Linked DNA regions of Homo sapiens: region 2 is linked to region 1. The links come from fine-mapping of genetic effects on gene expression. Tissue or cell type: whole blood. Region 1 holds a variant in brackets; the other region holds the start of a gene. All regions are shown on one strand. Distances are between the middles of the regions.

The links. PIP is the estimated chance that this variant, and not a neighbour inherited with it, causes the effect.
Region 2: it holds the start of MVP, and the variant in region 1 is fine-mapped to the expression of MVP in whole blood (TOPMed, PIP above 0.99). The same link has a PIP of 0.9 or more in tibial artery.

The regions. Positions count from the first base shown.
Region 1 is chr16:30,312,495-30,317,638 of GRCh38, forward strand. It overlaps the pseudogene SMG1P5. Among named protein-coding and RNA genes, the nearest start is that of CD2BP2, 40 kb to the right of the region's middle. The variant C/A (reference allele first, on the strand shown) is at 3,041.
Region 2 is chr16:29,817,655-29,822,798 of GRCh38, forward strand. MVP (major vault protein) reads left to right here and starts at 2,808. Exons shown (of 15, transcript NM_005115.5): 1 at 2,808-2,856. PAGR1 (PAXIP1 associated glutamate rich protein 1) reads left to right here. Exons shown (of 3, transcript NM_024516.4): 3 at 1,901-4,835. The coding sequence ends at 2,100. It overlaps MVP-DT (MVP divergent transcript), which reads right to left and starts at 2,713. Exons shown (of 4, transcript NR_186424.1): 1 at 2,530-2,713; 2 at 1,886-1,947. RefSeq lists enhancers at 2,452-2,521, 3,213-3,779, 3,242-3,531.

The sequences.
Region 1 (5,144 bases):
TCCCACCACTACCAGTGGATGACCTTATAGATTTCTGCTCCATGAGAAATAGAAGCCATTTGACAGCACCCTCAGCAAGAGCTAACATTTTAGCTCCTAACAAGAGCTAGTGGGCAACTGATCCAAGCAGTTTACATATGTTTATCATGTCATTTCGTGTTCAACACAATCCTATTAGTTATAACTTGATAACTAAGGTTTCATAACTGGCCTAAGGTTGCACAGCTTGTAAAAGGCAGAGTCAGAACTCAGACCCAGTACTGTCTAATGTTTGAGCTCTTCAACACTCCAACGCTGCCTGTCATCTTCCTTCTAATATATCCACAAATTCACCTGCATCTGCACATACAGCTTTTCTTCCCATCATCTTCGCATAATGGAACAAATAAACCTCCTATCCATAGAAATCATCTGGATCTGTCTATTCCCCCCATTTTCCAAGGTATGTCTTGTCTTTTTTTTTTGAGATGTAGTCTCGCTCTGTCGACCAGGCTGAAGTGCAGTGGCGTGATCTCGACTCACCGCCTCCCAGATTCACGCCATTCTCCTGCCTCAGCCTCCCGAGTAGCTGGGACTACAGGCGCCCACCACCATGCCCGGCTAATTTTTTGTATTTTTAGTAGAGACGGGGTTTCACCATGTTAGCCAGGATGGTCTCGATCTCCTGACCTCGTGATCCGCCCACCTTGGCCTCCCCAAAGTGCTGGGATTACAGGCTTGAGCCACTGCACCCGGCCTGTTTCTTTTGTATGTTGCAAAATCTCCCATTTTACTACTGCTTATCACATCGTCAACATATGAGCACTCTCAAAAGTCTTACTTTAAAAAAAACAAAAACAAAAACAAAAAATGGCCGGGCACGGTGGCTCACGCCTGTAATCCCAGCACTTTGGGAGGCGAAGACAGGCAGATCATAAGGTCAGGAGATTGAGACCACCCTGGCCAACATGGTGAAACCCCGTCTCTACTAAAATAGAAAAAATAAAACTACCTGCGCGTGGTGGCACGCACCTGTAGTCCCACCTACTTGGGAGGCTGAGGCAGGGGAATCGTTTGAACCCGGGAGGCAGAGCTTGCAGTGAGCCGAGATCGTGCCACTACACTCCAGCCTGGCGACAGAGCAAGACTCTGTCTCAAAAAAAAACTAAAGGCCGGGTGCAGTGGCTCACGCTGGTAATCCCAGCACTTTGGGAGGCCAAGGTGGGTGGATCATGAGGTCAGGAGTTCAAGACCAGCCTGGCCAATGTAGTGAAACCCCGTCTCTACTAAAAATACCAATATCAGCCAGGCGTGGTGGCGGGCGCCTGCAATCCCAGCTACTCAGGAGGCTGAGGCAGGAGAATCGCTCGAATCCGGGAGGCAGAGGTTGCAGTGAGCCGAGACTGCACCATTGCACTCCAGCCTGGGCGGCAGAGAGACTCCATCTCAAAAATAATAATAATAATAAAATAAATTTAAAAATTAAGAAAATAAGGCCGGGCACGGTGGCTCACGCCTGTAATCCCAGCACTTTGGGAGGGTGAGGCAGGCAGATCATGAGGTCAGGAGTTTGAGACCAGCCTGGGCAACATAGTGAAACCCCATCTCTACTAAAAATACAAAAAATTAGCCAGGTGTGGTGGTGGGCGCCTGTAATCCCAGCTAGTTGGGAGGCTGAGGCAGGAGAACTACTTGAACCCCGGAGGCGGAGGTTGCAGTGAGCCGAGGTCGCGCCATTGCACTCCAGACCAGGCAACAGTGTGAGACTCTGACTCAAAAAAAAAAACAAAAAACAAAAAAACCCTTTAACTGCCTTTCTCCCTCTATCAATCTAATAGCCTGGACTCTTCACAGACAAACCTGTTGAAAAATGTATCTTCCTTGCCTTCATTTACTTTTTAACGCACTTTAATCTGGGTTCCACCTGCAACACACCACTGAAGCTATTCCTACTAAGGTAGGAACTGCCACTCAAGGACTTCTTGGCTCTAAAATCCCATGAGCCTTTTTCAGTTCACCTTACAATTTCTCAGTACCATTCTAAAGTTTATGAGTTTTTTAGTTAACTTTAATTCCAGTGACTCTTTCTACTTTATCCCAATCCAAGTATTCTCCTCCTTCTTCACTTTTTTTTTTTTTTTTTTTTTTTTTTGAGACAGACTCTGACTTTGTTGCCCAGGCTGGAGTATAGTGGTGCAATACTGGCTCACTGCAACCTCCACCTCCAGGTTCAAGCGATTCTCCTGCCTCAGCCTCCCAAGTAGCTGAGATTACAGGCCCCTGCTACCACACCCGGCTAATTTTTGTATTTTTAGTAGAGACGGGGTTTCACCATGTTGGCCAGGCTGGTCTCGAACTCCTGACCTCAAGGGATCCCACCCGCCTCGGCCTCCCAAAGTGCTGGAATTACAGGCGTGAGCCAACGTGCCCGGCCCCTTCTTCACTTCTTTAACCAGCTTAGATTTCATTGTGTGTCATTTCAACAACACTCTTGCCTATACCCTTAACTCTTAAGATTTTCATCACAGCCATCTGGCAAAACCCCAATCCTGGATAAACCCAACGATCCATCAATAAGCACCACACTCCCAGGTCCTCCAGTGTTTACTTCCCATTCTATACATGCACTATCCAGACATTCCCATTATCTTCAAATTCCAAAATATCCTATCCACCTCCCCTCCCCATACACACATTCTACTTCACCAACAAAAAAAAAGGTACCAGCTGGGCACGGTGGCTCACGCCTGTAATCCCTGCACTTTGGGAGGCCAAGGCGGGTGGATCACTTGATGTCAGGAGTTGGACACCAGCCTGGCCAAAATGGTGAAACCTCATCTCTACTAAAAATACAAAAATTAGCTGGGTGTGGTGGTGCGCACCTGTAATCTCAGCTCCACGGGAGACTGAGGCAGGAGAATCGCTTGAACCCAGGAGGTGGAGGTTGCAGCGAGCCAAGACTGCACCACTGCACTCCAGAGCCTGGGCAATAATAAGAGCGAAACTCCATCTCGGGGAGGGGTGGGGAAGATACCATAAAATACCTGCACCCGATTCTAGA[C/A]CTTACTGAGGATTCCATCTACTTCTACCTTACTGTAACTTTTCAAATACTTTTCCCACTGAACTAAATCCCCCCCATAAACATGCAACACTTTCTAATGTATCCCATTGAAAAATGCAAAAACATATAAAAAGGAAAAACTCCATCAATCCCACATGTCCCTCCATCGAACAATCTGCCTTTACTTGCTGCAGCCAAACTAAAGTTGTCTAGACTCCCCTCTCCCATTTCTTCACTTCTTCTAGCTCCTTAACACACACTGGTCCAAATTCTGCCCCATCACTCTTGGCAAAATCCATTATGACCTCCAGGCTGCTAAATCCAAGATACAGTTCAGGCCTCAATCTGCTCATCCTTTCAGCAGCTTTCACAGGGCTGCTGAGTAGGGTTGAGCAGTTTTGCCCTGCACACAGGTGCCCTGCAGAGGAATGAGGTGGGCTGAATGAAACTCCTTTTTTAAAAATTCTTGGCTGGCATAGTGGCTCACGCCTGTAATCCCAGCACTTTGGGAGGCTGAGGCGGACGGATCACTTGAGGTCAGGAGTTCAAGATCAGCCTGGCCAATATGGCGAAACCCCATCTATTAAAAATACAAAAATTAGCTGGGCGTGGTGGCGGGCACCTGTAATCCCAGCTACTCCGGAGGCTGAGGCAAGAGAATCACTTGAACCCAGGAGGCGGAGGTTGCAGTGAGCCGAGACTGTGCCACTGCACTCCAGCCTGGGCAACAAGAGAGAAACTCCATCTCAAAAAAAAAAAATTGTTTATGCCAACTAATTGTACACCTAAATGCACCAAGTTCATGACTTTCTCCTTGCATTTATTTATTTATTTATTTATTTATTTTTTAATTAGGTCTCACTCTATGTTGCCCACGTTGTAGTGCAGTGTGTGATTACAGCTCACTGCAGCCTTGAACTCCTGGGCTCAAGAGATCCTCTGGTCTTAGCCTCCCCAGTAGCTAGAACTACAGGTATGGAGTGGCTCTCTGCCTTTATTTCTAACCCAAGCTACCTTACAACCTTAAAAAGAGATGCTGCTTCGCCGGGCACAGTTGCTCTCGCCTATACTCCCAGCACTTTGGGAGGCCAAGGCGGGCGGATCATGAGGTCAGGAGTTCGAGACCAGCCTGACCAACATGGTGAAACCCTGCCTCTACTAAAAATACACAAAAACTTAGCCAGGCCTGGTGGTGTGGTGCCTGTAGTCCCAGCTACTCAGGAGGCTGAGGCAGGAGAATCATTTGAACCCGGGAGACAGAGGTTGTAGTGAGCCGGAGGTTGTAGTGAAGCCGGAGGTTGTAGTGAGCCGAGATCACGCCGCTGCATTCCCACCTGGGCGACAGAACAAGACTCCAAAAAAAAAAAAAAAAAAAGAGAGACCCTACTTCAGCTCTCAATTGCATCGCTTATCTTCCCCTTTTGTCAGTTAAGTCCTGGAAGTACCCTAGAAACCTATCATTTGGCCTGGGAAATTGCCAAGATTAAAAGGAAATGTCTTACTCTATGACCTCTTTAACAGATGAAGGACAAAAAAGGCTGAAAATGTACAAAGATATGCATCCCTCCCCCACCAGTTAAATGCCAAACATAGGCCAGGCACAGTTGATCACACCTGTACTCCCAGCTGTTTGGGAGTCCGAGGTAAGCAGATTACCTGAGTTCAGGAGTTCGAGATCAGCCTGGCCAACATGGTGAAACCCAGTCTCTACTAAAAATACAAAAAAATTAGGCAGGCGTGGTGGTGCACATCTGTAATCCCAGCTACTCAGGAGGCTGAGGCAGGAGAATCGCTTACCCAGAGGCGGAGGTTGCAGTGAGCTGAGAGCTCGCCACTGCACTCCGGCCTGGAGAACAGAGTGAGACTCGGTCTCCAAAAAAAAAAAAAAAAAGGCCAAACATAGCACATTCCAACCAAGATTAAGAATCACTAAGAGTTACATTGCACCACTGCACACCAGCCTAGGTGACAGAGCGAGACTCCGTTTAAAAAAAAAAAAAAAAGAGTTACACACTGCAGAAATCTAAAGAATCTCAAAAGTAGACTGGGACTTTATAATCAAGGTAAAGGTGAAGTCATGTTTACCAATATAAGAAATGAATGG
Region 2 (5,144 bases), 490 kb before region 1:
GTAGAGACAGGCTTTCACCATGTTGGCCAGGCTGGTCTTGAATTCCTGACCTTGTGATCCGCCCACCTCAGCCTCCCAAAGTGCTAGGATTGCAGGCATGAGCCAATGCGCCTGGCCCCTTGTCTTCCTTTAAGAGACAATTATAATACAAAAAATTAGCCGGGCATAGTGGCGGGCACCTGTAGTCCCAGCTACTCAGGAGGCTGAGGCAGGAGAATCGCTTGAGCCTGGGAGGTGGAGGTTGCAGTGACCTGAGATCACACCACTGCACTCCAGCCTGGGCGAGAGAGTGAGACTCCGTCTCAAAAAACACAATTACAGATAATTCTTTTTTTAAAAAAACAACTAGTCATTGATTCTGGAAAATTACAGATAATTCTATCATGTTTCCCATTCCCAGAAGTCCAAGTCCTGGCCTTTCAATATTATCTAGATCTGCATCCCTCTACTACCATGTACATTCTTTAATCACACCGCTGGCCCCATTTCCCACCCCACATGCCTTCCTAGAATTTACCCTCAGAGTCATGCCTTTCCTTTTTTCTTTTTTTTGAGGGGTGGAGAGACAGAGTCTTGCTGTGTTGCCCAGACTGGTTGGTCTCGAACTCTTGAGCTCAAGTGATCCATCCGCCTCGGTTCTCAAAGTGCTGAGATTACAGGCATGAGTCACTGCACCCAGCCTAGAGCCATTCTTGATTTCTCTCTCTTTTACCTGAACATTCACACCAGCAGCAAGTCTTGGTAGCTATAAGATGTACATTTCCAAGTACCTCTGCTAGTCTCCACTTTCAATACCACATCCCCATCCAAGCCACTGTCTTTCTTGCCTGGATAGTTGTAGTAGCTCCTAACTGGGCTCTCTGCTTCCAGCTTCTGCAATTCAGATGAACCTTTTAAAACATAAATCATATCACTTTTTTTTTCTTTGAGACGAAGTCTTTCTCTTGCTCAGGCTGGAGTGCAGTGGCATGATCTTGGCTCACTGCAATCTCCACCTCCTGGGTTGAAGCGATTCTCCTACCTCAGTCTCCTGAGTAGCTGGGATTACAAGGACACGTCACCACGCCTAGCTAATTTTTGTATTTTCTAGTAGAGAGGGGGTTTCGCCATGTTGGCGAGGCTGGTCTTGAACTCCTGACCTAAAGCTTCCCAAAGTGCCTGCCTCAGCTTCCCAAAGTGCTGGAATTACAGGCGTGAGCTGCTGCACTCAGCCATAAATCGTGTCACTTTTCCACTTAAAATTTTCCAAGGGATTCCATCTTGCCAGGGAAGAGCATGTCAAAGGAGAATCCAAGCGCTTTTCCCGCCACCTCCAGTTCTCTGCACTCTTTTTTTTGTTTTTGTTTTTGGCGAGTAGGGGAGACGGAGTGTAGCTGTGTCACCGAGGCTGGAGTGCAGTAGTGCGATCTTGGCTCATTGCAACCTCCACCTCCCGGGTTCAAGCGATTCTTCTGCCTCAGCCTCCCAAGTAGCTGGGATTACAGGCGCCCACCACCACGCCCAGCTAATTTTTTGTGTTGGCCAGGCTGGTCTCAAACTCCTGACCTCGTGAGTTGCCCACCTCAGCCTCCCAAAGTGCTGGCATTACAAGCGTGAACCACCATGCCCGGCCTGCACTCTTCTTTGAACAGAACTCTGTTCTTGTCCTGGGGCCTCTACCCTTGCCATTCCCCTGCCCAGTATGTTCCTCCCTGTTCTTCACATTACCTGTGCCTTCCTGTCAATCAAGATCTTTGCTTCTCACCCTCTCTGAGGTCCAACCCTGAACCTCAGGTCCTCCAAGACAGAGGCCTGGGGACCTGCATGTTTAACCAGCTCCCCAAGTGATGAGTGAGGTCCAGGCAGGTATGGTGTACACCACCTCCATCCCTTCCATGTATCTTACCTTCCTCTTCTCCAGGAAGCTCAGCCCGGAGCCAGAAACGGGAGGCCCGCCTGGACAAGGTGCTGTCGGACATGAAGAGACACAAGAAGCTGGAGGAGCAGATCCTTCGTACCGGGAGGGACCTCTTCAGCCTGGACTCGGAGGACCCCAGCCCCGCCAGCCCCCCACTCCGATCCTCCGGGAGTAGTCTCTTCCCTCGGCAGCGGAAATACTGATTCCCACTGCTCCTGCCTCTAGGGTGCAGTGTCCGTACCTGCTGGAGCCTGGGCCCTCCTTCCCCAGCCCAGACATTGAGAAACTTGGGAAGAAGAGAGAAACCTCAAGCTCCCAAACAGCACGTTGCGGGAAAGAGGAAGAGAGAGTGTGAGTGTGTGTGTGTGTTTTTTCTATTGAACACCTGTAGAGTGTGTGTGTGTGTTTTCTATTGAACACCTATAGAGAGAGTGTGTGTGTTTTCTATTGAACATCTATATAGAGAGAGTGTGTGAGTGTGTGTTTTCTATTGAACACCTATTCAGAGACCTGGACTGAATTTTCTGAGTCTGAAATAAAAGATGCAGAGCTATCATCTCTTAAAAGGAGGGGCTGTAGCTGTAGCTCAACAGTTAGGCCCCACTTGAAGGGAGAGGCAGAATTGTACTCACCCAGATTGGAAAATGAAAGCCAGATGGGTAGAGGTGCCCTCAGTTAGCACCTGTCCCATCTCGGGCCCTCCAACTCCTCCCAGTCCCACTCCAGTGCAGCCAGCTGGCTCCAAGGTAGAAACCCATGAGCACTCAGGGAGCAGTGTGCCTTCAGCTGCAGCAGAAGCAGCCCGGAGGATAAAATGAGAACCAGCTGCACACGGGCCCTTTAACTCCCAAGCCCCACCCCTGGGCTTGGCCTGCCTTGCCCTGCCGGGAAGTGATCCCCAAGGCAGGGTGAGAGTTCCCCATCTGAGGCGTTTGTTGCAGCTACCTGCACTTCTAGATGTGAGTACATTGTACTAGCCCCCCAAACCCCAAATCAGGGGCAGATCTTTGTATCCCTTGAGGCTCTCTTTAGTCCTGTCTTGCTTTGAAGGGCCTTGCTTCTGCTGGGGCAGGGAAAACATGTCTGAATCAGAGTGGGGAAGGAGGATGGGTGGTGGCTTTGCTTTTGGAGGTTTCACTTTCCAATAGTTGGGAGTCTTCTGGGTTTTGAAGTAAAGGCAGATTAACACCAACACCGGTCCCCCACCCCCCTGCAACTCTCAGGCCTCTCTCTGACTTCAGGGTCCCACCTGGGAAATCAGGTGGGGAACCTTACAGGGTCATTCAGACCCCATCTTAGCCCTAGATCGGTGCTTGCTCTACTCACCTGCACTGTCCTGGGGACCTGGGCTCTGGCCTGTCACCTTGAGCTCCAAGAATGTGACCTGTACCCATTCAGGCCCCTTAACTCTGACAGATGAGGGTTTCTTACTCCTCCATGCAGGGCTGGGCCAGCTGTTGGTCTCAGTCGATCATTCAGGAAGTCATTAGCAGAGTGATTTCCAGAAGGCGTAGAATTTAGTGACCAAGGTTCTTTCCTTTTTGGGAGGAGAAAGTGAAAACTAGGATGCTCAGCTGGACCCACCAGCCTGAGATTCTGGGGATTTTAGAGCTGTCCCTTGGGGAGCCAAGCACTTGGGGGTGGAGGTGATAGCGAGGCTGATGGCCCCTGTGTTCTCAGCTCTCTGCCTGGGTAGCCCCTGGGTGATGGGGGAGAGGCCAGCTGTCACGTGGGGTATCAGGTGGCTCTGCCAGAAACTCCCTTGGCACACAGAGCACTGGGTCGGCCCTCGGGTGTGGCTGTTTGGGCAGGACAGCCCTCTGTATGTAGCCTTGAGCAGGTAGGGGGGCCACCTTGAGTGGGTGGCCCAGAGACAGCCTCAGGGCTCCAAGGTAACGGGGTGCTCAGGTTATCTTGGGTGCTGCCCTCCCAGGTTCTGGGGGAGCAGAGGCTGGGCGCTGGCCCAACTTACAGGAAACACTCACCTTTGAACTGCCATTAGCACCATCTGGGCAGTACACAGCCCCACCCAGGTCCTCTAGTTCTTGTTCTCGGCTTAGAATCTTTGTGTTTCTGCCTGAGAAGCCACTGCCTCCTAGTTTGTGGTCTCTACAGTTATAGCCAGGTTGGACTTCCGGCTCCGTCCTTTGATAACTGTGTGCTCTTGGGCAAATTTCTTAACTTGCAGGTTCTTGTGAGGATAACATGAGTTAATTGAGGGCACTTAACACTACCTGGCACAGATTAAGCTCATCTGAAGTGGGAGCTGTTACTTAGGGGCGTTTGCCTAGAACACAGGGTCCAGAGGCTCTCTCCCGGAAACTTAGACCCAGTGAGTCAGAAGTGAGGCCTGCAAAAAGCAGCAGGAGTGGGGTTAAGAATTCCAGCCTAGGGCTGGATGCGGTGGCTCAGGCCTGTAATCCCAGTACTTTGGGAGGCCCGAATGGGAGGATGGCTTGAGGCCAGGAGTTCCAGACCAGCCTGAGCAACATAGCGAGACCCTGTCTCTGTTTGTGTGTGTGTGGTTGGGGTTTTGTTTTTTTTTTTTTTTTAAAGAATTATAGCTCAGTCCTATGATTAGGCAAGTTGAGAAAATATTGATGAAGATCAGGGGTGCTGAAGCCTGGTTCCTGGGGTCGCTTCTGATCTAGGCGGTTCTTGCCTCTGGTGACTGGTGTTAATTGGCAGGAGTGGGAGGAGGGAGGACAAGTGGAAGTCTAGGCTGGCTGAGCTGTTCTGTCTCGAAAAGTTCCTAAAACTGTGCTGCTTTAAAAAAAAAAAAAGTAATTTATGAGACACATTCTCAATTTCCATTAATCATCTCCTAAAGGGGGTAAACCAGGAAGCCGCTGGGTGAAAACAGGCTGTTGGCAATTCCTGAGTCATGTGACCCATTCTCTAAAGACTAGAATATTTAACTTAAATCAGTGAGAAACTCTGTGAAGTTGTGTCCTTGTTTATACCAAACTTCATGTGCCTTTTCCTGAACCTGAAGCTGTGGGAAGGTCTGGGGGCAGGGCCGCATCACCGACCTTACGTCCAACCTCAGGACTGCCTGGAGCAAGAGCCCTGGGGTTGGGGACAAAGGAGGCTGCCTGGACCTGGGTAAGGGAAGGGGCTGGAGGAGAATGAGTGCAATTCCCTGCCCTTCACAGCCTGCAATCGGAGCTGTGTTTTTGTTTTTGAGACAGAGTCTCGCTCTGTCCCCCAGGCCAGAGTACAATGGCGCAATCTCGACTCACTGCAA